Regions from separate parts of the Homo sapiens genome. Here regions 1, 2, 4, 5, 6 and 7 are each linked to region 3. Evidence: fine-mapped expression QTL. A gene starts in region 3. Each other region holds a variant in brackets. All regions are shown on one strand. Distances are from middle to middle.

Evidence for each region. PIP is the estimated chance that this variant, and not a neighbour inherited with it, causes the effect. A credible set is the group of variants that fine-mapping cannot tell apart.
Region 1: its variant is the best candidate, but not a certain one, in a credible set for the expression of PRDM8 in blood mononuclear cells (TOPMed, PIP 0.70).
Region 2: its variant is the best candidate, but not a certain one, in a credible set for the expression of PRDM8 in left ventricle (GTEx, PIP 0.63).
Region 4: its variant is the best candidate, but not a certain one, in a credible set for the expression of PRDM8 in whole blood (TOPMed, PIP 0.72).
Region 5: its variant is the best candidate, but not a certain one, in a credible set for the expression of PRDM8 in whole blood (INTERVAL, PIP 0.54).
Region 6: its variant is the best candidate, but not a certain one, in a credible set for the expression of PRDM8 in lung (TOPMed, PIP 0.56).
Region 7: its variant is the best candidate, but not a certain one, in a credible set for the expression of PRDM8 in thyroid (GTEx, PIP 0.52).

What each region holds. Positions count from the first base shown.
Region 1 is chr4:80,171,736-80,175,805 of GRCh38, reverse strand. No RefSeq gene overlaps it. Among named protein-coding and RNA genes, the nearest start is that of PRDM8-AS1, 24 kb to the left of the region's middle. The variant C/G (reference allele first, on the strand shown) is at 2,162.
Region 2 is chr4:79,850,480-79,854,549 of GRCh38, reverse strand. The region is part of intron 1 of PCAT4 (prostate cancer associated transcript 4); the gene reads right to left. Among named protein-coding and RNA genes, the nearest start is that of PCAT4, 25 kb to the right of the region's middle. The variant C/T (reference allele first, on the strand shown) is at 1,600.
Region 3 is chr4:80,195,860-80,199,929 of GRCh38, reverse strand. It overlaps PRDM8 (PR/SET domain 8), which reads right to left and starts at 2,427. Exons shown (of 4, transcript NM_001099403.2): 1 at 2,167-2,427. PRDM8-AS1 (PRDM8 antisense RNA 1) reads left to right here and starts at 2,586. Exons shown (of 6, transcript NR_183912.1): 1 at 2,586-2,802; 2 at 2,942-3,103. RefSeq lists enhancers at 2,584-3,199, 3,200-3,817.
Region 4 is chr4:80,113,409-80,117,478 of GRCh38, reverse strand. No RefSeq gene overlaps it. Among named protein-coding and RNA genes, the nearest start is that of ANTXR2, 42 kb to the right of the region's middle. The variant C/T (reference allele first, on the strand shown) is at 2,021.
Region 5 is chr4:79,934,401-79,938,470 of GRCh38, reverse strand. The region is part of intron 16 of ANTXR2 (ANTXR cell adhesion molecule 2); the gene reads left to right. Among named protein-coding and RNA genes, the nearest start is that of PCAT4, 110 kb to the right of the region's middle. RefSeq lists an enhancer at 1-474. The variant G/T (reference allele first, on the strand shown) is at 1,581.
Region 6 is chr4:80,158,261-80,162,330 of GRCh38, reverse strand. It overlaps the pseudogene RPSAP39. Among named protein-coding and RNA genes, the nearest start is that of PRDM8-AS1, 37 kb to the left of the region's middle. The variant G/A (reference allele first, on the strand shown) is at 2,430.
Region 7 is chr4:79,873,241-79,877,310 of GRCh38, reverse strand. No RefSeq gene overlaps it. Among named protein-coding and RNA genes, the nearest start is that of PCAT4, 48 kb to the right of the region's middle. The variant G/C (reference allele first, on the strand shown) is at 1,792.

The DNA of each region.
Region 1 (4,070 bases), 24 kb after region 3:
TCACCTCTAGTTATCCACTAGCAAAAGTTTTGCTTCCTGTTCCCATAACCTCACGTTCTGCAGACCTAAAGGTCTTAGTTCCAGAGGGAGGAACGCTGCCACCAGGAGACACAACAACAATTCCATTAAACTAGAAGTTAAGATTTCCATCTGAACACTTTGGGGTCCTCTTACCTTTAAGTCAACAGACTAAGAAGGGAGTTATAGTGTTGGCTGGGGTTATTGATCCAGACTATCAAGATGAAATCAGTCTACTACTCCACAACGGAGGTAAGGAAAGAATATGCACGGAATACAGGTGATCCATTAGGGTGTCTCTTAGTATTACCATGCCCTGTGATTAAGGTCAATGGGAAAGTACAACAGCCCAATCCAGGCAGAACTACAAATGGTCCAGACCCCTCAGGAAGGAAGGTTTGGGTCACTCCACCAGGAAAAAAAACATGACCTGCTGAGGTGCTTGCTGAAGGTAAAGGGAATACAGAATGGGCAGTAGGAGAAGGTAGTCATAAATACCAGCTATGACCACTTGACCAGCTGCAGAAATGAGGACTGTAACTGTCATGAGTATTTCCTCCTTCTTTTGTTAAAAACATGTTTGTGCATGTATACACTTGTACTGAGAAATTATCCTCATTTTATTTCCTTTTCCTTTATCATGTGACATAAGATTAATTGACTTCATATCAGCATTTAAGTATTGTTAACTTTATGTAATAGTATTTGGATGGGGGTATTGGTGCATTTCCGGTTGTACGAAAGATAGTTGTATTATTTTAAGTGTAATTATGACCTTATTATTGTCTTTATTTGAAGATTATGTATGATCTCAGGAGATATATATGGGTTCAAGTTGACAAGGGGTGGAGTTGTGATAGTTAATACTGAGTGTCAACTTGACTGGATTGAAGGATACAAAGTATTGATCCTGGGTGTGTCTGTGAGGGTGTTGCCAGTAGAGATTAACATTTGAGTCAGTGGGCTGGGGAAAGCAGATCCACCCTTAATCTGGTGGGCACAATCTAATCAGCTGCCAGCAAATATAAAGGAAGCAGAAAAATGTGAAAAGGAGAGACTGGCCCAGCCTCCCAGCCTACATCTTTCTCCCATGCTGGATGGTTCCTGCCCTCTATCATCAGACTCAAAATTCTTCAGTTTTGGGACTTGGACTAGCTCTCCTGGCTCCTCAGCTTGCAGACAGCCTATTGTGACACCTTGTGATTGTGTAAGTTAATACTTAACAAATTCCCCTTTATATGTATATATATAATATATGTACATGTGTATATATAGGGGAGTGCACAGTATATTGTTATATGTGTTCTATTTTATCTTATTGTTCATCTCTTGCAGTGTCTAATTTATAAATCAATTATTTTCAGAGGTATGTATGTATCAGAGAAAACATAGTATATACAGCATTTGGTATTATCTGTGATTTTAGCCATCCACTGGTGGTCTTGGAAATAATTGCCCCATCCTCAGGTAAGGGAGTGCTACAAAGATGTGGACCAGGTGATGAGAACAAACGAGAGAGTGAGGGACACAGAAACCAGCATAACAAGAAGATTTTAGGAGAGGAATTAGTGTTTCTACAGTCTGCTAAGGACCAGAACCTTGGAAGAAGGGCCCAGTGTGAGACCTACAGAAACAGCTACTGACACAGAGACAATGGTGTAGCAAGGAGAGGACAGGGAAGAAATAACTCATCTTTTCTTTTCTCACATGCTCCAATTTCATGTTAATGCCTTCCAATGGCCTAACTCAACCGGAAGCTAACTAACCAGCAAGGTTCTGGAGCATGCTAACGAATCTGCATGAGTCAGCCTCTGGCAATATAGAGCCAGGAGAGGACAGAGAATGGATTTTGGAGAGACAAATGGAGAATAACCATTACATTACTACTATTATTCACAAATAGAATTATCTGAGAACTCTTTCTGAAAACATCTTTTTCATGCACAGTTTCAACTGGAAGTAAAAACTTACTGGGTTTTGTAAACTTAAGCATCCAAGATTTTAAAGAATCATTTCTCAGAGCCCTTTGGCTGGAACATTCCTAGTAGCATTTAGGAAGGATTTCCAGAAGTCTTGGGAGGCTTTGCAAGCCAAAATCTGGAAGAATTTGAGAGTATGCTTTTATTGACTTCCTTTGGGCATC[C/G]CCAGGTCTCTCATCATTTGGTGGTTTCCTGTGTCAGCACCAGTCTTACTATGCCTGGTTAGTCACTTGCTGATTGTTTTCAAGGAAGCCAGCCAGGCTTCAACAAAGGGTGACTACCTCAAAACAAATCAGCTGCACAGCAATAGGAACTCCTACTAATGGCTTCCCTTGAATTCACAAACTGTGTAGATTTTAGAATGAAGTAACATTTTCTCTTTCCAACTTTGCCATCCCTGTCTCTTCCTCCTGAACCTGAACTAACCCACAGACAAAAAAATGGAAGAGGACAGTGGTGGAGAAGCATGCTCTCTTTCCTGAAGCCTTAGATTAAAATTATACTCAAGGCCGGTTGTCATGGCTCATGCCTGCAATCTCAGTGCTTTAGGAGACTGAGCTGGGAGGATAACTTGCGACCAAGAGCTCAGGATCAGGTTGGGCAACATAGCAATATTCTGTCTCTGCAATAAATAAATAAATCAAATTATCTGATTGTGGTGGCACGTTCCTGTAGTCCCAGCTACTGAGGAAGCTGAGGTGGGAGAATTGCATGAGCCTGGGAGTTCAAGGCCACAGTAAGTTAAAATTGTGCCACTGCAATCCAGCCTGAGCAACAAAGGAAGACTTTAACTCTAAAAAAAAATTATAGCCAATATCAGAGTCTTGAATATTCACTGTAAACATCAGCACAAACAAAAGCCCGATTTCTAAATCTCATAGAAACTAAGAGTTTGAAAACTTGAGAGGACTGATATAAAGTTGGAAGTCAGTGTTTCAAAGGAGAGAGACAGAGTTAGCTATAGGAAAACAGAAAATTAGGAGTGGAAAGCAAAGAAGAGTCTTGTAAGTAACATATATAGCTGAACAATAAATACAAGTGAAATAGATTGACTTCTAGAATGGCAGTGTGGGAAACTCTGCTGAGCCACTCCTCAGTGAAACTGGTGAAAATTGTGTGTAAAGAAACAACCACTTAAATTCTCTGGAAATGGTCCTAAGGGCAAATGGTAAATAAAGAAATACCTATTAGAGGAAATTATGAATATCTGTCAAGAGAGGTGAGTCTGTGACATTTGAACTGAAACTACTACTTTCCTTGCCCCTCCCAGCTCAGTGAGGCAGAGACTCTACTCCAGACGCTGCAGCCAAGAATATGACTCTTTATATTCCTTAGGTGTCAGCTGCAGGGCTTTCATTGCAATAGGACATAACTTGAGCTTTTTTGGTCCTGCCCGTAGCTGTCTGTTGCTAAGGCTAAGTCTTAGGTGAATACAACTGGGAGGAGGAAGCTTCCTTCTCCCACCCAACACTTTCTTGTAAAAAGGAAGTTCTACCTTGGGTGTGGTGCATTGAGAATGAAACTACCTTTGCAAAAATTATGACAGTGAGAGAAATGTAACCTAGCTGACACTGCCATACTTCTAACTTAACAAGCTAACTGTGTTTGCTCATTCCTGGGTGTAGGCGAAGCTAATTGTGGAAGGAATTTAGCTTATAGTTTAACTTTAAATAAAGGATAATAGTCTCCCCCAAAAACTGACCCCCTCTGGGGACTGAAACCACCTTTGTAGGACTAATGAAAGGCCAAAAGCTTAGGATTATGAGTGGGGAATGAATTCTGGTAAGATGTAGATGTAGTTAAATGATAACCAGCCACAGTTCCGAAGATGACAAGATTTGTAAGTTCTTTAATTGCTCTTATAGATACCAACGGTATTGTCAAAACCCAATATTGGTCTTTGAGGTATTTTTCAGACTTTTGCACTTTGGCTGACCAGTTGATGCCACCTGGATCTGTGACTCATACCAGGGAACTGACTTAACCAATCCTGTGACCCCCTACCCTGAAACTGACTCAGCACATGAAGAACATTTTGGATACACCTATGATTTCATCCTGAACCAATCAGCA
Region 2 (4,070 bases), 350 kb after region 3:
ATACAGTAATGATTTCCATTGTAAAGGTGTGACAGTGGCTTTTACATTCTCTTGGATCAGAGACCCTACTGAGAATATGATCACAGCTGCAAATCCTATTTCCAGGAAAAACAAAATGTGCACTGGTACTCACCAAGAAAATATTACATACAATCGCAAGAGGGTTTAGATTTCCTGCAGGTCATTCATGCAATCCACACAGGCTTAACCTCAATTTTAGAATCTTTGTGGTATAGCATGGGCACAAATGAAAGAGTGAGGCAGTGTATATGTATTTAGTGTGTGTGTGTGTGTGTGTGTGCGCGCGTGTGCATGTGTGAGTTGGGAAGGAAGATAAAGCTTCAGAAAGAAGTTGGGTCTTAGCTTCTTCTTCAGGAGATTAAGATGGAAAAATATTTTCTAGGTAGAAGGACTGGCTTATGGAAAAGTAATGAGATGTGATTTGGCAGGGGAATTCAGCAAATCAAGGCAGTTTAGTGTGAATGACACAACTTTAGAGTGAAAGAATAAAGCTTTGGAAGAAGAGGCAGGAAAGAGGCTAGAGATTGGATCACAGAAGTTTTCGAATATTACATCAGAGTGACGGTCTTTTATTCTTGATGGATCATACAGCCCTAAAGGGGATGCACACTGTAAGACATGCCATTCACCAGAGAACATTTAAGGCCATATATTTGTTTCAGCCTGGTTGTTTATTGTTTATTTTCTCTTTTCTGTGTTTCTTTTTTTAAAATTAAGTATGTGCTAATAAACAAAGATCCTTATGTGTAACATATCATAGAATTTATTTTAATTTTGTAGCAATCCTGATGAGTAGATTTTATTTTACCTGTTTTACCAGCAGGAAAACTGAGACCTATAGAGGTAACTAACAGGATCAAGCCCACATAGATGAAAGTGGCAAAGCTGAGAATTAAATATCTTTTTTTTTTTTCTGACTCCAGGTTCTATACTTTTTCCCCTGGGCTAAGATACTGAGCCTAATAATTTTTTTTCCATAAAAATAACTGATAATCTCTGGCTAATGTAGAACACTACCTTAGAGCCAGTCAGATTATTAATTAAAATCATACTTTAAAAAAGTCCAAGAATTTTGAAGGGAATAGGATTTGTTTCTCTTTTCAGTAATCCCTTTACCCTTACCAGCCCTTATTTAGTTTTTTATTTTGGTAAAGAAAAAGTTGGAGGTAGGCTTATAGCTGGGGTTTAACTGAGCAATCTGGATAGACTGGAAAGGCTAAGACCTGGATTACAAGGTGCTGGGAATTTCTTTCCATCACAAATTCTAAGCAACAGACAAAATTGCAGTGCAATAAAGAGACAATAACTTAAGAATTTTAAAAAAATGTTTTAAGTCTTCTCCTACAGGAGTGAAAATATATAATGACATAACCACAATGTGAAGAAGGCATTGATGGCCAAGGAATAGCAGAAACTTGAAATAGTTGCAAATACAGTCTTCTCCAGTATCAAGTATGGCTTGGAAGTCTCTCTCTTAGCTTTGCTTTTTGGCATAATCGATAATTTCTAGATGGCCTTCCCAACATTTGAACCTAGTCAGCTCATCAGTTCTTATTGAAACTACATACCAATTAAATA[C/T]CACAGATTTTGTGATGATAGAACAAGGAGGAAGGGGCAATGCACAAGTGAATTTTGGTTGGGATAAGATTTAGAACACTGTCATGAGGAACATCAGGCTGAGGCATGGCACAAGGCGTGACACTTTAACATCAGATGAGTGCCACTTAAGGATATTCAAAATCTAATAGAAAAGGAAAAGATGATGATTGAAAACGTCAAAAGGGAAGAGGCTTCAGTGGATGAATCTGGTTTGGTTTGTAATTGTGCTCAGGGCCTGCTCTGATTATAATACAATACGACTCATCCCTTGGTAAAATAATTTATAATGAAGCTCGTGGAATCATACTGACAAGAAAGGAGGGAAACATCAAAGGCACCTCCTCATATGCCATAAATGACAGGAAGAACATCTGGAACAGAACATGCTGGGTGCTGTTTGTCTGTGTGCCCCCTTCTGTGAGGAGAACCTCTTATCCTGTTAACTTAGAGCCAGGCAAACCACAGCTCTGTTTACATGGAAGTTGCTGTGACCTTCCCGGCATGCCTTCCTGTCAGCTGGATCCCAAGCATAGCCCCATTTCACAGCCTTGCATCATTTTCTCGGAACACAGCCATGTGGAGAGGGAACAGCTGGGAAGGGATGGCTGAAAAAATCCCCAAGGATTCTATAGAGGGTCTAGAAATCCTCTTTTTACCAAGTAAACTTAAGGATCCTGAGGTTACTTTTATCAAACACAATGTCAGTGTGAGGAGAAAGAAAAACAACAACAAAATGCAAGTTTGAGTGATGTGACCACATTGCAGGGCAAAAAACTTTTGTAAACAAGGCTTAAAGTTTTGTATATGTTTTAGCATTTGGTTATGTGATGACACACATGTTTACCAAAGCCTAAGAACAGATACTCTTGATACAACAATAGGGCATAAAGTCCTGAGAAAATACATACATTCCCATTGTGTTTTAATCATTGAAATCCATATTTTAAGGGTTCTTTCAATGGTTCAGTGTCACTCTTCACATTGTCACTCATTTTTTTAAAATCTCATTTTTTAAAAAAATGATCCTTTAGAACTGTTGATGTATCCGTAATACAAAATGAAAGTATGTTTCAGTTGTTATCATGTAATTTTATCTTATTCCTCTATATTGAAATAACCAATGACTAACACATATCTCAGAGATACATGAGGCAATTTTTCCCCTCTATTTTGGCTCTTTAAATGAATTTCATTGCTGCTTTATAATTCACAAGCTGGGTGTTATTGTGAAAATTTTTAATCTCTCTGTGCCTGAGTCATCACACCTACAAAATAGAGATGATATCAGAATCTACTTCACACAGTTGTTTGAGAATTAAATAGAATAATATATGTAAAATACTTAGCAAAGTGCTTGTGACATAGAAAGTCCTCAGTAAGTGCTACCTATAATAATCTTTATCATCATCATAATTCATTCAAATGAATATCATTTAAATAATGATAGCCTCTCTTCTAGTGGGTCAAGGACACACTAATTTTAAAATAAGTTTTATGTTTATGATAGCATTTAACTTCTGTTATTAATTTCACAGTTATCACTACTATCTAATTTGAGAAAACAAAAAATGTCAGCACCCTTCAAATTTAGTTAGTAAGGGAGTTATAGATAATGGGGAGCTTTTGGAAAACTTATCTCAAACTCTAAAAATGTTCAGTTTTAACTTTCAGGCATGATAAAATATTTGAATTGTGACAAATCTGAAAATCTCAATAACTAAAGTTTGTTATTTGCAATCATATTTGCAATCATATACTTCATCTAACCTTTAAAACTAATGTCAACACAGAGTTTTGAGGTTTTAAAATTTGTTTATTCAAAGAAAACCTGGAAGCGTGTATCCCACTGTGAAATGCTCAAAAAAATATGCCAAGCAGAGGAAGTTGAAAACAATGTTTGTGAATTCTGAATTCATCTTGTTTGCTATGTTTTACGGCACCAGATTCTCAAGCTTTTTGAGAAATGCTCAGAGATGAGTGGAAAGTGTTTTAAAATCAGAAATGACATGTGTCAGTGTCTATCTTCCATAGCAGGGAGACTTCCCTTTGTGTAAAGGGCAGCCAAGCATTGTCTTTGGCTCTTCTTGCACGCATCCCGATGACATAAATGGGAGGGTCAGATTGAAATCTTTCCAGACTTGGATACATCATGTTTTGAACTCTTTAGATCTAGATATTATGATAATTTCCAGGCTTAGAATTAGAAATAATGAGAATTAAATGCCCTCATTAGGTACTTTTCTAAAGGTTTCAAACATAACTTAATTGGGCCAACTCCTGATGTAATAAACAAGGAAAGTTTCCCACATCCCTGTGTAGAAGTATACTGCATCAACATGATTAATATTTTCATGTTCCAGAAATTCTTTTACTTTGGCTTACCATGACCTTAGATTCCCTAATAGTCACTTGTTTACATATTTTTTCTATTTTAAATTATTTTATTTTAT
Region 3 (4,070 bases):
CATGGCATATTTTAAAGATGAAAACTAAGGGATACTTGTTAAAATAATTAGAATAGTGGGAGATCTGGAGCTGACTGCTTGGGAGAAAGAAAAGAAAGGGCTAGGAAAGACTAGATAATTTTTGCATTACCTTGATGTTGGATTGGGTAGGTTTTAGAGGTGAAGTTCCAGGCAGAATTATATATATATGTACACACACACACACACACACACACACACATATATATATATATACATATATATAATTTTTTAAACCAGCCTATAGACTTCCCTTACTGAAAGAAACTTCTAACCCTTGGGGGAAAGTGCCTGTCTGCCTATGTATTGAACTGGGTGCCCGGGAGCTGATTTTTTTCTTTTCTTCCAAGGAGGGGAACAGCGTTAGTGAGCAGGCGGAGACAGCGGAGCATGGCGAATGGATTTCAAGTGGAATGTCAGGGCCACTAATTCTGTGTCAGCTAACCTTTCTCTGCAGCCTACAAGAAGGGACGTATGTCTGCTCATTACCATAATCCAACACTGTTCCTCTGAGGCTTTAATTAAAAGCAGCAAGCAGAGGTAATTTTTTTTTCTGGACGTGCTTATTTATGGATGAGAGTGAATCCCGGTTACCTTGTTATACAAGGGGGTGGATTGAGTCACATGTGGCTCATGAAGTGAGCAGGTACAGGACAGGCCTAAAGTGTCCCCAGTCTGAAATACTGTGTGTAATGACTGGTAAATTTTCACTCCCCCTACCCCATATGACCCTTTTTGGGCAAGAGGGGGCAGCCCTGCTTGAGCACTCCTCAGTGGGCTCCCCAGCTGTTTAATCCGCAGCAATTTAGAAAGTAATGCCCCAATGCCCTTTATTAAGGTGTCATAAAGGGACATTTTCCTTCCTCTGGACACCCCATACAAGACTTATCACTAAAAAAAAAAAAAAAAAAAAAAAACAAAAAAAAAAAAACCCAAAAAAACCCAGGTATTTAAATTTTTAAACTAGCTTTGAACTAGCTGCATTGCTTAGTATTTCAGACTAATCAAAATATTCCTCCAAGTTTGTTGTTCCCTAATAATGTCACTGTTGGCAATTATTTATGTATGTTTTATATAATTAAAGTAGCAGGAAAGAGTAGATCTAATTCTTTTCCTGCAAAGCTGTTCATTATGGAATAATGTCAGTGACATCTATTTTTATTTTAATTTATATTAACCAGTTAACCTTACACGTGTGATTACAAGGTGTGCTTTTTTCCCCCCATTCCAGCTAACATAGCCTAAAACTTTGGTTAGCCTCATTTTCCATTCATCCTCTTGCATCCCCCAAATGTCAAGTGTTGGGCTGTATCTCCCAGACAGCAGAAATAAGGGAAAATATCCATAAAGTAGAAACTTTTTTATTCTGCATCATCTATCCCTGGTCATTTTTACCCCATACAAGGTAGACATCCTGATTTTTTCATTTCAAATTAAAATACATTTTAAAAACCCCATAACCTCTTATCTCCTTTTCAACGGAATCCTATTCTCCTCTTTTCAATTTCCTTCAATTCAGCGTTTTATTCCCCAATTTCTCTCTTCCTTTTAAAAATCTCTTTCACACAAGCATTTCATTGTGCCGGGAGGTCGCCCCGTCACTTCGGGCAACAGCAGGGACACAGTCATTAAAATGCAGTTCTACCTAACAATACGGCAAAAAGGTCCTCACTACGCCGCGCTAATAGCGGTCGGAGTCGCAGCGCCAGGCGCCACGAGCCTCAAGCCCATCACAATAACCGCTGGGCAAGAGCCTAGGAGCGCCCGCCCGCGTGCGGTCGCCTTTGCCACGCAACGTTTCACAGCTCCGTGCCCCGCTCTAGGCCCAGGTTCTTATCCGCCTGCCCTGGGAATATACCCCAGAGCCGGCGGGGCTTTCTGAAAGCCGGTCGCTGCTGCCCGCCACTGGCCCGTCCCTCTAGGCAGGCATTGTCTGGCGGCCGCGCGCTCCCCAGTCTCCGGCTTCTCCGGCAAAGTGCTCACCACCCGCTCCTCCTTTTGTACAATATTACTGGCAGTAGACAGCCCCTCAAGAATTATTTTTCTCTCTCTTCTGGATAATAAGGAGACGGAAGACAAAATGTTCTACTCTTTCCACCAAACTGTCTTCCTCCCATCCCCCTCCCACATCAATGCAAATAGACTTACCAGGAATAAGGTCAGTATAGAATCTCCCAAATAAGGCCACCTGGAACCGGGAAGATGCAATCGAGTGTTTCCTTTTGCCTATTGTATCAGTGTATTTCCATGTCAAGAGGTGTTGGTGTTGCCGCCTTTTAGGCTCTTCCTGAAGAGATAAGAGAGAGATGGAGAGATGGGGAGAAAAAGATTGGGGGGGTGGAGGGAGGGAGGGAGGGAGAGAGACGGAGAAACGGAGAGAGTTGTACAGATGGACCCGATGCAGTGACTGACTGGCACGCAGACACACACTTTTTGTTTGCTGCACATAATCTGCCCAATGACGCGTGACAGCCCACGTCCCCTCCCTTTAACTCTTTGCTGGGCCAGGCGCTCCCTCCGGCGCCGCCTGCCTCGCAGCTTTTTCCCCCGGCCTGCCCGCGCCCCGCAGATCCTGAGCGCCTACCCCGGGTGGCAACGCCTCTCAGAGAGCGTCCCGGCCCGCCTCCTCCTAAAGCTCGGGCCCTCTGGGACTGCTAGGAGGGGAAAATCGTTTCAGGATTGGAAAGGAAGGTACCAAAATGATTGGAGAGGGCCTTTCCCCGTTTCACTAGGCACTTGGAGAAGCTGTGACAGAGAGCTGGACACCCAGCGCGTGCGGACCCCGTGCGTATTTCCCCGGAGTCCGCGTTCCGTGAAAGGGAGAGGGGTGCGGTTAGCTCCAGGGATTCTCTAGCCCTGGAGCCACCGCTGATTTGCGCAGCTAGTTGCCTGGGGGTGATAAACGGGCGTCGTCTCTCTTCAGGAGCGCCAACACTACCAAGCTTCCCCCTGCAAAATTCAGAAAGGATGCGCTTTGGTGAGAACTTGGCTCAGCCTTCCCGTGGCTTGGGAGATGAGGTTGGAGTGAGAATGTCACCAGACCTCGGAAGGGGACATAACGGTACCTCCTAGTCCCAGGACACGGGTACGTGGGCGGAGGTGGGGTGTGGGAGGTTGGTGGGAAGAGCGCAGGTTACTGGACTCAAACAGTTCCTGTTTTTTTTTTGTTTGTTTTTGTTTTCGTGGGGTTTTTCCCCCCCTCTGCTTGGTGCGTTCTGCGCAGCCCCAGAGGGAGTCTATAATGGGTACTGTTGGCACTCTGAGGTCTTGGGGTTGGGGGGCAAGGGTGATTAAAAATAAAAATGATTACCAAGATGGGCTCCGGAAAGCTTTTCACATCCAGCGGGTGGTGGAGGAGGGGATGGAGTTGCCGAGGCCGTCTCGGGAGCCTCGTTTGTGCGCTAAGCCACTTAGAGGCGCTGACTTGCCCCTTTAGTGCAGCAGCTGATGCTAATGACTTGAGGTCTTTAACAGCCTGCAAGTTGACTCCTTCAACGGGGCTGCAACACCACGTCGCTGGGGAATCTCGGGCTTCTTTTTCACAGTTCAATTCTCTACTCCTAAAGGAAGAAAGGCCTTTGAGTGGTATAGACAGTTTCTCAACTCCTTCAGCCCCACACACACCACCACTACTTTGAAGTGGGCAATCTGTCAGCATTAGGATAAATCGGATTGTGTAGCTAGCTAAAGTGGAGGAGGCAGAACCACAACGTAAGGAGACAGCCTCGTTGTTGTTTTTCCTAGTGTTGAAATAATGTATTTGGGGAGTTGGCAAAGAGCAGCTTACCATGTTAGTTTGATCCTCTCCCAGCTTTGAGACCCTTCTCTGGAACTCAGTGGGGTATTGAGGCTTTGACAGCCTGGTGACTGCAGTCCCAGGAGGCCAGGGGAGGATTTTGCTGAGGAGAAACAAGTGCAAGGACTTTCCCATGAAGTTCATGTTCTTCCTTGTTCTCTCTCTCTCTCTCTCTCTCTCTCTCTCTGTGTGTGTGTGTGTGTGTGTGTGTGTATTTCCTTCTCTTTTCTGGTTAGTACCCCAGGCAAATTCCGAA
Region 4 (4,070 bases), 82 kb after region 3:
GCTTACTTTTGTTGAATATAAAATTCCGTTTTGAAAATTCTTTTCTTTAAGAATGTGAATTTTGGCCTCCAATCTCTTCTAGCTTGTAGGGTTTCTGCTGTTAATCTGATGGACTTCCCTTTGCAGGTGACATGGCCTTTCTCTCTGGCTGCCCTTAACATTGTTCCTTTCATTTTGACCTTGGAGAATCTGATGATTATGTGTCTTGGGGTTGATCTTCTCATGGATTATCTTACTGGGGTTCTCTGGATTTCCTGAATTTGAATGTTGGCCCTCTTGTTAGGTTGGAGAAGTTCTGCTGAATGATATCCTGAAGTATGTTTTCCAACTTGGTTCCATTCTCCCCATTTCTTTCAGGTACCCCAATCAGTCTTAGATTTGGTGTCTTTACATCATCCCATATTTCTCAGAAGTTTTGTTCGTTCCTTTTCATTCTCTTTCTCCTATTCTTGTCTGCCTGTCTTATTTCGGATAGATAGTCTTCAAGACCTGAAATTCTTTCTTCTGCTTGTTTTATTATGCTATTAATACCTGTGATTTTATTGTGAAGTTCTTGTAGTGTGTTTTTCAGCTCTAACAGGTTGGTTATGCTTCTCTGTAGACTGGCCATTTTGGCTGTCAGCTCCTCTATTTAGCTTTCTTGCACTGGGTTATAACATGCTTCTTTAGCTCAGTGAAGTTTGTTATTACCTGCCTTCTGAAGCCTACTTCTCTCAATTTGGTCATCTCACCCTTACCCCGGTTCTGAGCACATGCTGGAGAGGTGTTGTGGTCATTTGGAGGAAAAGGGGAACTCTGGCTTTTTGTATTCCAGCATTTTTGCATTGATTCTCTCTCATCTTTGTGGGCTTATCTACCTTTGATCTTTGAGGTTGCTGACCTTTGGATGGGGTTTTTTGTTGAGTTTTGTTGTTGTTGCTGTTTTCTGTTTGTTTGTTTTTCTTTTTATAGTCAGGCCACTCTCCCATAGGGCTGCTGTAGTTTGCTGGGGATCCGCTGTAGTCCCTAATTGCCTCAGTTTTTCCTGTACATGGAGGTATCACCAGTGAAGGCTGTGAAACAGCAAAGATGGCAGCCTGCTCCTTCCTATGAAAGCTCTGTCCCGGGGGTTACAGACCTATTTCCCGCCCCAATGCTCCTGTAGGAGGTGGCTGGAGACCTCAGTTGGGAGGTCTCATCCATTCAGGAGGAATGAGATCAGGGATTTGCTTAAAGAAGTAGTCTGGCTGCTTTTTGGTAGAGCAGCTGTGCTGTGTTGAGGATAACGTTCAGCCCTCAATTGGTTTGGGCTCTCCAGGGCCCACAGGCTGAGTGGGCTGAGAAGCCTGAACAGCCAAGTTGGTGGCCTGCCTTGCTTCTCCGGTACTCTGTCCCAGGGAGAAATTAGAGCTTTTTTGGCCCCCTAGAACACAGGCAGGGGTGGCCAGAGGCCCTGGCTGGGAAGACCCAGCTGGGAGGACCCGCCACAAGGAGTAGCGGATTATGGTCCTACTTAAAGAAGCAGTCTGACCACATCTTGACACAACAACTCTGTCATGCTGGAGAACCGCCTCTGCCTGTGTCGGCTTGGACTCTCCAATGCCTGTCGGTTGGAATGGCTGAGACATAGTCGTACAACCAACTCAGGCAGTGGCCCTTCCCCCTCTCCTGGGCACTCCATCCCTGGGAGAGATCAGAGCTCTATCTGTAATATGTGTGTGGGGGGGTGGCTGGAGGGCCTGACTGGGAGGCCCTGTCCAGTGAGGAGGAATGGATTGGGCCTGCTTTAAGACGCAGTCTGGCCAAAATCTGGCAAAGCTGCTGTGCTGCACTTTCCTCATCTGGACTATTTGGACTTTCCAAAGCCCACAGGCTGGAACAGCTGAGTTGACCAAAGAGCAAAGATGGTGCCTGCCCCTCCCCCCTGTGGCTCCATTAGGTCTCAGGCAGTCTCCACCCTGTTGCTGGTGGCTGGTTGGAATTCCAAGGCAGTGTGTCTTATCTTTTGAAGTGCTGTGGAAGTGGGGCCTGCAGAACAATG[C/T]TGCTTGGCTCCCTGGATTCTACCACCCTTCCAAGGGGTATGTGCAGAACTTCTGCCTTGCCTAAGTTGTAGACACATTTGTTGGAGATCTCATCTTGGCCCCTTAAAATCCTAAAATATATGGAACCACAAGACTGAATAGCCAAGGCAACCTTGCACAAAGAGAATTGAGCTGGAAATATGAAAATATGACACCACCTGACATCCAAATTTACTTCAAATCTGTAGTAACCAAAACAGCATGGTAATGTTATATAAACAGATACATAGACCAATAGAACATAATAGAGAAACTAGATATGAATTCATGCATTGCAGCCAACTCATTTGCAACAAAGGTGCCAAGAACATGCAATGGGTAAAGGAGAGTCATTTCAATAAATGGTGCTAGAAAAACTAGATAACTATATGCAGAGGAATGAAACTACACCCTATCTCCCTCACCACACAAAAAAGTCAAATCAAAATGGATATAAGACTTAAAGCTAAGAGCTGAAACTATGACACTGCTAGAAGAAAACATTGAGAAATCCTCTGGGACACTGGCCTAGGCAAATAACTTTTGTGAAGGACCTCAAAAGCACAAGCAACCAAAGCAAAAATAGACAAATGAGATCAAATCAGGCTAAAAAGCTTCTTCACAGCAAAAGAAACAATCAACAAAGTGGAAGGACAACCTGCTAAATGGAAGAAAACATTTGCAAACTATCCTTCTCACAAAGGATTAATACGCAGAATTTATAAGGAGTCCAAACAATTCAATAGCAAAAAAACAAATAATCCAATTAAACAAAGGGCAAAATATCTGAATGGACATTTCTCAAAAGAATACATAAAACTGGCCAACAGATATATGAAAAATTCTCAATATCACTAATCATCAGAAAAGTGCAAATCAAAGCCACGATGATATCATCTCATTAGAATTAAAATGGCTTGTATCAAAGACAGGTATTAACAGATGCTGGAGAGGATGTAGAGAAAGTTGAACCCTCATACACTGTTGGTGGGAATGTAAATTAGTACAACCACTATGGAGAACAGTGTGGTGGTTCCTCCCAAAAACTAAAAATAGAGCTACCATATGATCCTGCAATTCTACCACTTGATATATATCCAAAGGAAAGGAAATCAATATATCGAAGAGATATCTGCACTGTTATGTTTACTGCAACACTATTCACAGTAGCCCAGATATGGAATCAGCCTAAGTGCTCATTAGTGAATGAATGGATAAAGAAAATGTGGCATATATACACAATTGAATATTATTTAGCCATAAAAAAATACAATGCTATCACTTGCAGTTACATGGATAGAACTGGATGTCATTTTATTAAATGAAATAAGCCGGGCACAGAAAGACAAACATCACATGTTGTCACTTATATGTGGGAGCTAAAAAAGTGGATCTCATTAAGATAGAAAGTAGACTTGTGGTTACCAGAGGGTGGGAAGGGTAGCAGGAAGCGGGATGAAGGGAAAAGGAAAGAATATAAATGTATTCTTACATTTAAAGACTGTTTTAAGAGCACCACTGAACTGTACACTTAAAAATGGCAAATATGGTGCATTTTATATGGATGTTTTACCTCAAAAAATTTTAAAATAAAGAAATAATTTGCTGGCCAGTTGTGGTGACTCATGCCTGAAATCCCAACACTTTGGGATGCTGAGATAAGAGAATCACTTGAGGTCAGGAGTTTAAGACCAGCCTGGTCAACATAGCAAAAACCCATCTGTATTTTCTAAAAAATTATAAAATAAAAAAGAAAGAACTTCCCGCCAAGACCCAAGGCGGGTGGCTAGCTGGTAATCTTCAGCTTTTAGCTTCATAAGGATTAGCTTCTGCTTTGAAGAGGTGACTCTAGTCAGTGGCTGAAAAAGGCAGTAGTGTAAGGGATTAGCCATTGCTATCCAATGTGAGACCCTTGCAATGTACAATCTTTGCTCCAGGTCTTTTGGCTGGTCTGGCAGGGAATGTGTCTTCAGCATCATCGTCTGAAGCTCTCTCTTGCTCAGTCTTGTTTTCTCAGCTTTCCTGTTCAGG
Region 5 (4,070 bases), 260 kb after region 3:
TGTGCCCCTGCTGGGGGGTGCCTCCCAGTTAGGCTGCTCGGGGGTCAGGAGTCAGGGACCCACTTGAGGAGGCAGTCTGTCTGCCCGTTCTCAGATCTCCAGCTGCGTGCTGGGAGAACCACTGCTCTCTTCAAAGCTGTCAGACAGGGACACTTAAGTCTGCAGAGGTTACTGCTGTCTTTTTGTTTGTCTGTGCCCTGCCCCCAGAGGTGGAGCCTACAGAGGCAGGCAGGCCTCCTTGAGCTGTGGTGGGCTCCACCCAGTTCGAGCTTCCCGGCTGCTTTGTTTACCTAAGCAAGCCTGGGCAATGGCGGGCGCCCCTCCCCCAGCCTCGTTGCCGCCTTGCAGTTTGATCTCAGACTGCTGTGCTAGCAATCAGCGAGATTCCGTGGGCGTAGGACCCTCCGAGCCAGGTGTGGGATATAGTCTCGTGGTGCGCCGTTTCTTAAGCCGGTCTGAAAAGCGCAATATTCGGGTGGGAGTGACCCGATTTTCCAGGTGCGACCGTCACCCCTTTCTTTGACTCGGAAAGGGAACTCCCTGACCCCTTGCGCTTCCCAGGTGAGGCAATGCCTCGCCCTGCTTCGGCTCGTGCACGGTGCGCACACACACTGGCCTGCGCCCACTGTCTGGCACTCCCTAGTGAGATGAACCCGGTACCTCAGATGGAAATGCAGAAATCACCGTCTTCTGCGTCGCTCACGCTGGGAGCTGTAGACCGGAGCTGTTCCTATTCGGCCATCTTGGCTCCTCTCTTAGGGGGTTTTAAAAACACTATCACAGTGCTGGGTACATAATTGATGCTCAATATATACATAAGCATTCAAGTTGTTACCTTGTTAGTGACACATAACATTTTATGATTTATTTATTTCTAGTTTAGATAACGGAACAAATCTGTTTGAGTATGGTACTATATACCCTGATAGACAGTACCTCTCTCAGGGTAGATACAAATTGCAAATTAGAGTTGGGAAAAAGTGGCCCAAGCAAGTGGCACAAAAAGTCACTTGCAGATAAAAAGCTTTCTGTGAGTATGTTACAGTGAAACTTTCAATGAAGATATGTCCAAATGCAGTTAATCAGAAACCAGCCAAACTAGCCTAAACATTTATGGATATTACAAACATTCTTCCAAAAATTTTTTTTCTTCTGCTCAATTTTGTGCTGTTTTAAATGATTATATGTAATTAATTTTCAAGGAACTTAGTTGAGCCAAATGTGAATCTTTTGAGGTTTTCCTATTGCTAGCAATTGCTTCATTAAGAATATGAAATAGGCACCTGGTTTTTTTAATGCTACTGTTGAGAATACAGTGAATGAGTCCTATTTATAACTGAATTAAAAGCTTAATTAAGTTTATGAGTGTTTTAAAACTGTATAAAGTTAATGCTAATGTATTTATTAAAAGTAAAAATTATTAATACATTTTTCTTCTTTGCAACAAAGATTAAAATGAAAAATGCTTTAAAATGATTGAATGAATACATAATCAATTATCCATTGCTTGCTGACTTTCTGCCTAGCATTATACAAGTGATAGAAAAAAATAGAAAATATAAGTGTAGTTTTTACCATTG[G/T]TTAGTACAGTGGTAGAGTGTAGTACCTTTAGTGTGGTACTACTAGTGTAGTACCATTGTACTAGGTGGGAATGATTATAAGCACAAAAAAGGTGATTATAACCCATAGTGCAATTAATAATCAGAACTTAAAGTGAATTAGTTTAAATATTGTGCAGTAATTTTTAAATTAATTGTTTTCTAATTATTTCATGTGTTAGTCTTTTCTTCTTCCCTTTTACGTTTAATAAAGGATTTTTTTTATTTCTTTTGCATTATTTCCCAGTCCCTGAGACCAACTTGAATACTGTTGAAATATTTCACTAATTTCTCCCATCAGGAATTATACCTAAGCTTTTATGAGGACATAAATTACCTTGAAAGAAAAGGAAACTTTTGGAGAATTAGAAAAATGTGAGAATGTTTTGATTGTTCATTTAGGTTTTGGTTGTGAGATGAAGGAGAAAACTTGCATAGGAAGTACCTAAGCAGAGTTCTAATGCAGTGCAACCAGTTTTAGTGCTAGGTTGTGAAGGAGAATAGTAATGGTTTTGAAAGAGAGTAGCTAAGCTCTGATGACAGGAGGTCTGAAAATAAGACAGTTAAATAGCATTTTGTCATTTAAAAATTTATCTGAATAGAGATCAATTAAATATTCTGCAAATAAGAATGCAACTAATTATATCATTTGTAGTACTTGTGTAATAGTGATTAAAACATCTGAACCCTTTTAAAAAGTGGTATTGTACTGATAGTAAAAATAATGTGTAGTAACTCTCTGCATTGAGAACTATGAATAATATCTCAAAATTAGAATATATGACTCCTGGCTAGAGGTTGTACACTTGCTAAATCCTAATTAATTCCATTTTTTTACAACTTTGGAATGGAATCATAGTTTAAGGTGCTCTTTTGTTGGAACAGGCATTTATTGTTTCAGAAGAGAGATTCCACTGGGAGCGGAGTCATTTCCTTAGAGTACATTAGCCTAAGTGTCACTCTTTAACAAAGCTATGCAACAGCTGGACCACAATAGAAATTTACTATATTTTATTGCAATGAATGTGAAATATCAGTGTTCCTTCCAAACACAAGTAGCCAACAACGTACACACAAATGGGCAGAGCTAACCATTGCTAATTCATCTTAGATTTCCAAGTCCTTTGATTCAAGTATAAAAGTGTTTTAAAATTTCTTCACATTGCAATAGCTGTATCCAAAATAAATAAGACTTTCTTCTCACTATCCCACATGCCTTAGCCAGGCAATTATATTAATAAATGTCAGTGTACTATCTTGCACTTTGCTTCTTCTTCTTAATGTTTTGACTCAGGCTTCACCCTAGTTAAAGCTCCTTCTGGCATTTTCTCCAGTTTTATGGCTCCCTTTTTTTTTTCCAGTTCAGCTGGCCTTTGAGCTCCTCTTTTGATGTTCAGTATGTTTCTCTAGACAGTCTGGCCCCAACTCTTTGTCACTAATTTATTTTCGTATTGTGATCCATGATATACCCCCACAGGCTTTAAATAATTTCAAGAATGCTGTTTATAGTTGAGCAAATTATAACCTGCATAAAGGTGGAAAATGAGGGAGTAATGGAGAGGGTGGGGGTGGGGGGACTGCTGAAATCCAGCCTGGAGGAAAGGGTGCTTTTTCTAATTGGTCAATGGTAGTGCTTTAAAAAAAAAAAGTTGGGGGGCGATGACATGTAATTTTTAAACTCTCCACCTTTGTAGAGGTCATATACTTTAATTTTAAGGGCGTGTTACAAACCTATCAAATTTCTTAGCAAAGGCCAGCATTATTCAGTTGTTTTTTTTTTTTATACTTTAAGTTTTAGGGTACATGGGCACAACGTGCAGGTTAGTTACATATGTATACATGTGCCATGTTGGTGTGCTGCACCCATCAACTTGTCATTTAACATTAGGTATATCTCCTAATGCTATCCCTCCCAGTTTTCTTAACAGAAGGCCCAAAGTCAGTTCCTGAAAGCAGACAAGGTCTCTTTCCAATGACTAGTGTGTATCCTTCATGAAAGAACTGCTGAGTAGACAGTTTTTTTTTTTTTTTTGAAACTTGACTACTTGGAGGAGTTTTTTGTCCTAACATCTATTTTAAAGTTTTATTTAAAACAAGTCTATGTATTAAACTATTTTCCAGTTCAGATCTCTTAGACAGAAATAGTAGCAATGCATGGCGTTTCCTTAGTGTTTATCATATATCAGGCATTAAGCTTCATGCACATTCACATAATTCTCCTGGTAACCCTCTGGTAAGCTGCTATTACTTTCCATATTTTATAAATGATGAAAATAAGGTGAAAGAGTCAAAAGAGTCTTAAATGATAGGTTTGGTGTTTTTTTTTTTTTGTTGTTGTTGTTGTTTTAGACAGGGTCTTGCTCAGTCACCCAGGCTGGAGTATAGTGGCATGATCTTGGCTCATTGCAACCTCTGCCTCCCAGGTTCAAACGATTCCCATGCCTCAGCCTCCCAAGTAGCTGGGATTACAGT
Region 6 (4,070 bases), 38 kb after region 3:
TTAGCAAAGAAACAGACTCATACATCAGTCTAGAGTAGTCTTGGAACAGGATAAACAATCAAGAAGTAAATCCATATAGGTATAACTATTTGATTTTTGGCAAAGGTGCAAAATAAGTAAATAGAGAAAGAACAGGTTTGGTTTCTTTGAAAAAATAAATGGTGTTGGAACAATTGAACACCCACATGCAAACAAAACATAACAAAAGGAAAAATTAAACTTTACACCTATATCTTTTTTTTTGTTTGTTTTTAGAAACTGATATTTATTTTTCGTCAACGTTATTTCCATGTTGCTTAAGAGCCTGTGCAAGAACAGCTTAAGACCATTCAGTGGTTGCTCCTACGCATTCAGTGGCCTGAGTGGTGGGAGCTGCAGACCAGTCTTTTGTGGCAGGCCAAGCGCTCCAGTCTTCAGTAGGGAACTGCTGAATAGGCACAGAGTGCACCTGCACATCTTTAGACCAGTCTGCAACCTCAGACTGAGTAGCAGTGAACTCAGGAGCTGGAGCAGTCCATTCACCTTGAAAATCCTCCTTAGTCACAGCGTTTTCAGCAGCAGCCTGCTCTTCTTTTTCAATCTACAGAATCTCTGTAGAAGTAGAGATCAGGCATGACCTCCCATGGGTGTGTATGGGAAATGGTGCCACGCATAGGCAGAACTTCCCGGACCAGTATCCGTCACATCAAACCCACTGAGTCAGCTCCCTTGTTGTTGCATGGAATGGCAATGTCCACATAGCGCAGAGGAGTATCTGTGTTACACAGAGCAATGGTAGGTAGGTTAAGATAAGATGTCTCCGTGAGAGGCTGGTGGTCAGTCCTGGGGTCAGTAACCACAGGAAGTCATGGCTCCCGGAAGGCTGCCTGTATCTGGTTAGTGAAGGTTTCAGGAGTGAAGCGGCCAGCAATTGGAGTGGCTCCAGTGGCAGCAGCAAACGTCAGCTTGGCCCTCTAGCCAGTATTCCTGGAGGATATAACACTGACATCAGCAGGGTTTTCAATGGCAACAATGGCACGAGCTGCCAGCAGAAGCTTCTCCCAGGTCCTCTTCAGATTTATGATGTAGATCACATCACTTTTCCTTTTATAGATGTACTGTTCCATTTGGAAGTCAAGATTGGCGCCACGTAAGTGGGTTCCTGCTGCAAGGAATTTAAGGACATCCTCCTTCATTTGCAGGACATCAAGGGCTCCAGACATTGTGAAAGTTTCCCTTTAAGTTACGACGGGAATTCACAACAAAGCTGTATGGACCCTTCTGTAGGTAGCGCGGAAAGGCTGTATCACTATTAATGCAAAGTAGATAATAGATCTAAATGTAAAACCTAAAACTATAAAGCTTTTAGAAGAACACATGAATTGGGGTTAGGCAAGATATCAAAGAGTTATCAGACATGATATCATAAGTGTTATTCATTTATAAAAAAGATAAATTGGATTTTAATAAAAATTTAAAACTTTTTGCTCTCGGAAGGACACTGTTAAGAAAATGAAAAGATAAGCTATGTACTAGGATAAAATATTTTCAACGTATATATCCAACAAAGGACTTCTGTCCAAAATAGAAAAAGAACCCTCAAAATTCAACAGTAAGAAAATAAAAAGCTCAATTAAAATATAGGTAAATGATTTGAACAGATACTCAACAGTGAGGATATATGGATACAAATAACCACACAAAAGGATATCTACTATTTTTCATCATTGTAGATATGAAAATTGAAACCACATAATTTTCAATATTGAATAGTTAAATTTAAGAATATTGAAAATACCTATTGCTGATGAGGATGCAGAGAAATTTTAACTCTCATACATTCTTTATGGGAGTTACACAGGCCTTGAAACTGAACAAAATTGTCCCCTACTTCAAAATTAATTGGAACTGGTGACTCTTTATCCCTTCCAATTTTTCCCTTTTGGAATGAAAAAGTTTATACTGTCTATATTTAATGTCTGTGCCTGTCCCACCATTGTGTTTTGGATTCAGATAACTTGCTTTCTTGTTTTACATGTCCATAGAAAGACAACTATTTTTTCCCAGAATGGATCATACCTAGTGATATGGTTTGGTTCTGTGTTCCCACCCAAATCTCATGTTGAATTGTGATCCTGACTGTTGGAGGTCAGGACTGGTGGGAGGTGATTAGATCATGGTTCAGGAAGTCTGGAATAGGTTAGCAATTTAAAAAAAAGTTAAACATACACTTACATAACCAAGCAATCCCATATTTTTGGTATTTACCCTAGAGAAATGAAACATATTCACAAAATCTTATTAACTAACATTCACAGCAGCTGTATTTGTAATTTCTAAAAACTGAAAACCAGCATAACATCCTCAGTGGATGAATTGATAAACCACTTCGGTATATACATATAATGGAATACTTTCTACTCAGCAAGAAAAAGAAAGAAACTGGTCTC[G/A]TATACAATTCTTGGATGCATCTCAAAAGAATTAAGCTGAGTGAAAGAAGATAATCTGAAGAAGTTACACACTGTTGTTTTTATTTAAAGCAACATTCTAAACAAAACACTGTAGTACTGGAAGGTGGCAACAAATGTCTAAAAATATGGAAGTGGATATCCTATTCTCATTGCCACTTGTGGGAAATTCAAGATATTTATGGGGTGATAAAAGATATGGGCATGGGGTGGCAGTACCACATGCAGGCTTTATCAGGACAATGCCTTGACAGATTTGTATATTAGAAGTCTCTCACTGCATGAGACTGTCCAGAGGCTATGGTGTGGGGGCCACCACTCTGAAGGGAAAGAAGACAGAGTACTTCTGTGGGAGAGGGCTTAGGAGACAGAACTTATGTGTCTACATGATGTCACTCTAAGTAGCCCACAAGAGATTCTCTAGGTGAGAGGGTTCCAGAGCATAGCAGCAGTTTGGGATCTTTACAGATTTGGAGTTTATCCTATGGCTAGCAGATGCTGTGTGCACTTCCATGAGGCATGCAAAGCAAACAGGCTCTAAACATCTAAAATATGCTTATTTGTGGAATATTTAAAACAATGAGATATACGAAAATTTGAGTTTGGCCCTATTATGCTTATAAATTAATGGGTCCTTGCCTGCTGTGAAGAAGTAAACAACCTAGGCGCCAATATTCAGAGGTCATAATTAGTGTGATTATATAACAATTGGTTAATGGGTAGAGGCTGGAGGAAATTAGGGTACATAATAAAAAACAAAACAAAACACCCTAGATTGCCTTGAAGAGACTGTGGGTAGAAATCGGAATGTTACAGGCAATTCTGTTAAGGAGTCAGGAAATGAGGAACATGTTATCGAGATTGAAAACACTTTATACATAACTGAGGAATTGTTATATAGTGGCAGAAAACTTGGCTGTATTGTCTTCTGTAGTTGAGGAGAAAACAGAGATTAGAAACAATAAAATTTGATGGGTAGCTAAAATGATTTCCAAATAAAGCATTGAAGGTGCGGCCTATTTTTTTTCCTGCTTAGTAAAAAGCAGTAGGAAAGAAATAAAGTAAGAAAGTTAAGCAAAAAGGAATTTGCACTTGATAAATCAGGAGGTTATTGGTCTATCCAGATTGTAAAGCCTGCTAAAATGAGGAAAGTCACTGTCAGGAAAGTGTGCAATGTAGAAGACGCCAAGGAAATGGTTGGATAAACTTTTATTGATGCACTTAGGTGTGTGATTAATGGATCCACTCAGCCATCTCAGTGGAAGCCAGGGATAGAGATGGGGTTATCCAGGAAAGATCTATGGAGGACTCTCTTGTCTAATGCCATAGACCCTTGTGACATACACAGGAGATCCACAAATTTATTGAGAATGTCATATCAGCAGGAACACTCCTAGCTTGGACTGAAAGGAATAGAGAAAGGACAACATGAGAGAAAGATATTGAGCTTCCAGAACTACACTGGCAGGAAACTGCAACTGCAAACATGTGCTCCCACTTAAGCAGAAGGAATAATAACTCTCTTTATTATTCCTTTAGAGGAGACCGTGCATGTGGAACAGAGGCCTGAGGAACTGCCACAATTTCAGATGGCACAGCATCAAGGCACAGAGCATTACTACG
Region 7 (4,070 bases), 320 kb after region 3:
ACCTAGCTTTCTTTCAGCTCGTAGAAAATGTATTCATTCAGTGTCCATTTACGACGCTCCCATGTAACAGAGACACTATGCTGTACTCTAAGATTATAAGGATAAATCAATCATAGATGTACCACAAAGGAGCTCACAATTGAGGAAGCATGGAATTGAAAAATAAACTCACGAGGGAAGACAATATTTTTGATGAAGGGTGTTGGAGCAACTTTGACTCCTGCCTCACAGCATACACAAAAAGTGAATCAGAGATAATCATAGACCTAACTGTAAAATGTGAAACTACAAAGCTTATAGAAATAACAACAGGGAAATATCATCATGGCCTGGGGGTGGGCACAGAGTTTTTAGACAGGACAAACATGTATAAGATAATGTATTAATTGTTAATTAAATATACAATACAATTGAATACATTAGGTTAGTACAAAATTAATTGCAGTTTTTGCTGTTGAAAGTAATGACAAAAACAGCAATTAATTTTGCACCAACCTAATACAATATAGTACAATATGCATTACAATTATGATACAAAATAATGCAATATGATCCACAAAAGCAAGTAAATGAATACTTCACAAAAAAGATATATGAATGGTCAATAAGCACATGAGAAGATGCTCAGCATCATTAGTCATCAGGGAAACATGATTTAAAACAAGAAAGAGGTACCACCATACACCCACTAGAATTGTTCAAATAAAAATGACTGGCTTATATGAGGTATCTAAAATAGCTTTGAAAAACATTTTAGTAGATCCTAATAAAGATAAACATATACTTACTCTATAGTTCATCAATTTCACTCCTAGGTATTTACCCAACATTGAAAACAAGAGTCCACTAAAAATTTGTGCACACGTTCCCACAGTAGCTTTTTTCACAATGGCCAATAACGGGAAGCAATCAAATGTCCATCAACAGAAGCATAGACACCAAGTTGTATTATATTCACTTGATGGAAAATTACTCAGTAATAAAACTCCTGATACATTCAACATCATAGATGAATAACAAAAATATGCTGAACAGATGAAAATAGGCATAAAAACACAGATGGTATCATTGTATTTATAAGAAGTTCAAGCATAATAAAAACTAATCTATAGGAATAAAAACTAATCTATAGGGATAAAAACTAAAAAAAAGTTTTAGGGAGTGATGAGGGTTAGGAAGTATTGATTGGAAAGAGATCTTTCAATGGTAAAGGAAATCTATACCTTGATTTAGTGTTGGTTACACAGATGTTCCATTTGTTAGAATTCTTAAAACTTTTACATGTAAGCTCTGTACATTTTACTATTCATAAGATATATAAATAAAAAATACATTTACTAGTACAATGTGATGAGGAGCATAAAGGGGGAAATGCAAAAATAAGCAAAAATAAGGAGTAATTATGCCTTATAGTCTGACTGAAATACTAAAGGGCTCAGAATTGAAGTCTGTAATTTAATCTGACTCACTTGGGAGCCCATGTTGGGCCCAGACACAGAGGATTGGACTCGAATAACAACAGTATTTCACTCTACCAGGAGCATGGACCTAGCTCAATGACTGGATACTTCTTACTTTTTCAGTCCAAACAATTACCCAATAACTGTCAGAAAATTCTGACCTTAAGACTGAAATCTGTGATGAGGCATGACTACCCCCATTGGTAGAACACATTGCCTTCGTTAGGCCTAAAGTTTGAAATCTGCTAGAAGGGTGGGGAATCTTCGGTTTTGGAGCTCATTTCTGTTGTTTTTCTGGTGCAGCCTGGGAATGCTAAACTTTAGGCCATAG[G/C]GCAAGCCTCATCTGTTTAGCCTCATTGTTAAGGGAAGGGCTGTTCGGCTTTATAGTCTCTCTGGGAAGGGTGGGGATGCAATTCTTTTATGCTTTACTTGTTAATTGTAAATACAGGCCAGTGGTTGAATACTAGTTATAAATTCAAAATCAAACCTAACAGATTACAATGAATAAGTCCAAGACAACAGACTGAATAGTTTATAGCGTTTTTAGAGAGATGCAGGAAAATAAAGAAAGATGAGGCCTACACAGACCTGGATAAATATTTGAATAAGCACTATCTTCTTGATATCCATTTACATTTCTTTTTAAGGCCCCTTTATATCTCCCTGTGTTTTGGGTATGCTTCCTCTTTGTCTCCTGAAATACTCATACCTGCTGCATTTCTGCTGTTAAGGGCTCAATTTACTGAGCCCAAATATTAGCACATTACCACTATGATATTACTGACCTTATATAATAAGTTTCGGTATATGTACCATTATTATTCCTTATTTACAGATGAAGAAACAAAGGCACAGAGAAGGTACGTTGCTTGTGCAAAATTACACAGAATTCAAGATTTGAATTTGATAATCTAATCATGGGAGGCTTGACCATCAAGCTAAGCTAATTGTCATCTCCCCACTCATGCCCCTTTCTTTTCCTTAAGCACCAACTTTGTAACCCTTTGCATATGGTGTCTAGTGTAAGCCTTGCAATGACTTTGAGAGGACTTTGAGAGGTAGGACTTCAAATCTCTATTTTATGGATTTAGAAACATCCAAAGCACTAAGGTTGAAAGTGTTGGTTAACTTGCCCTAGATTGTGCAGCTAGAAAGTGGTAATGACACCTATATTAGAACCCTTATCTACTGCCACGGCTGTGAGTCTTTCTACCTAAAAGACAATCAGCATAGAATTTCTTCCAGGGCTATTTGTGTTGAAATAAAATTTCCGGCATCTGAGGAAGTTATTTGGGAAGATGGTTTAGGGTGAAGACCCCTCAAGTGACACTACAAAGTGACCACTGTTCCTCTTCTTGTGAGGCTGCTGCTGTGCACATGGAGACTACACAATGAAGAATTGGGCCTACCACTCCTTCTGCTTTCTCCTATGCACATTGCCCGGTAATCACTGTCTGCTTGACATATGGTGATGGTTATCTAAACTTAGCATTTTACATCTGATTGCCTGGCTAATTTATAACATCACCACATCACCACTAAATTCATTTGGAAATCTTCTAAATTTGGTTCTTCTTTAGTCTGACCTAGACAGTTCAAACAAGGTGGCTCATTGACTATAATACCATCAGTCTTAAGAAATTGCTGTATGAAAGGAGTTTTTAAATGTATCTTTGGAATCCATTCCAGCATATGATTTACCTAATAAGGTTTTACTTAAGCTAATTCTAAAGTAGTTTGCATTTTTTGAGAAAATAAATGTACATGGGGAGAACCCAGAAATGAGTTGGAAGTCAAGAGAGAGCCAGGTAGTGCAGATATCATTGAAACAATGTGGAATTCACACATACTGTGTATATATTTTTCAAAATCTTGGGATTTCATTACTCCTTTTCTAGTCAATATAACATTTTAACTTTCTGGAAGCCTCATTTCTCTTATTTTTAAAAATCAGGACAATGAGTCTGTTGATTTCTTAGTTCTTTTCCTGCAAAACATTTTATCCTTTCTATACTATAATATACTGTGCCTACATATTTTGAGGTTTTGAAATATATAGAACTGTGGGTTCATCATTTCACTCATTCATCTGATATTCATTTCACAAATATTTATTGAGAACCTACAAACGACAGGCACTGTGCCGGTTTGGGGAATGAAGAGGACACAGTCCCTGCCCTCAAAGAGATCTATACATAGAATTGAATAACACTGTAAAGATGGCTAATAAAAATCTCACAGGTGACAAACTTCCTGGAGATGACAGATCACAATTGCTCTTGCTTTTATTACAAAATATAGAAAAGGTCTCTTTACTTCACAAGCCAACAAGAACAAGTCTCCTCTCTAGCAGTGCTCTTACCTTTTGTCTGACTCCCTTGGAACTGGGAAGGTTTTTGTTTTTCTTTTTTTCTTCTTCTGCCTTTTTTTTTTTTTTTGGTACATAAATGAATAATATAGAAGACAACCCATAGCCAGTTTGTATTCCCTGCTGTCCTTCCAAAGCTTCATAGCCCAAAATAAAGGTGCTGCGGAGGTGGAGAACCCAATTTCCATTCTAAGTTTCACACAGTGGGTTTCAGTCAATTAAAATTTCTGTTCCTAAGATAC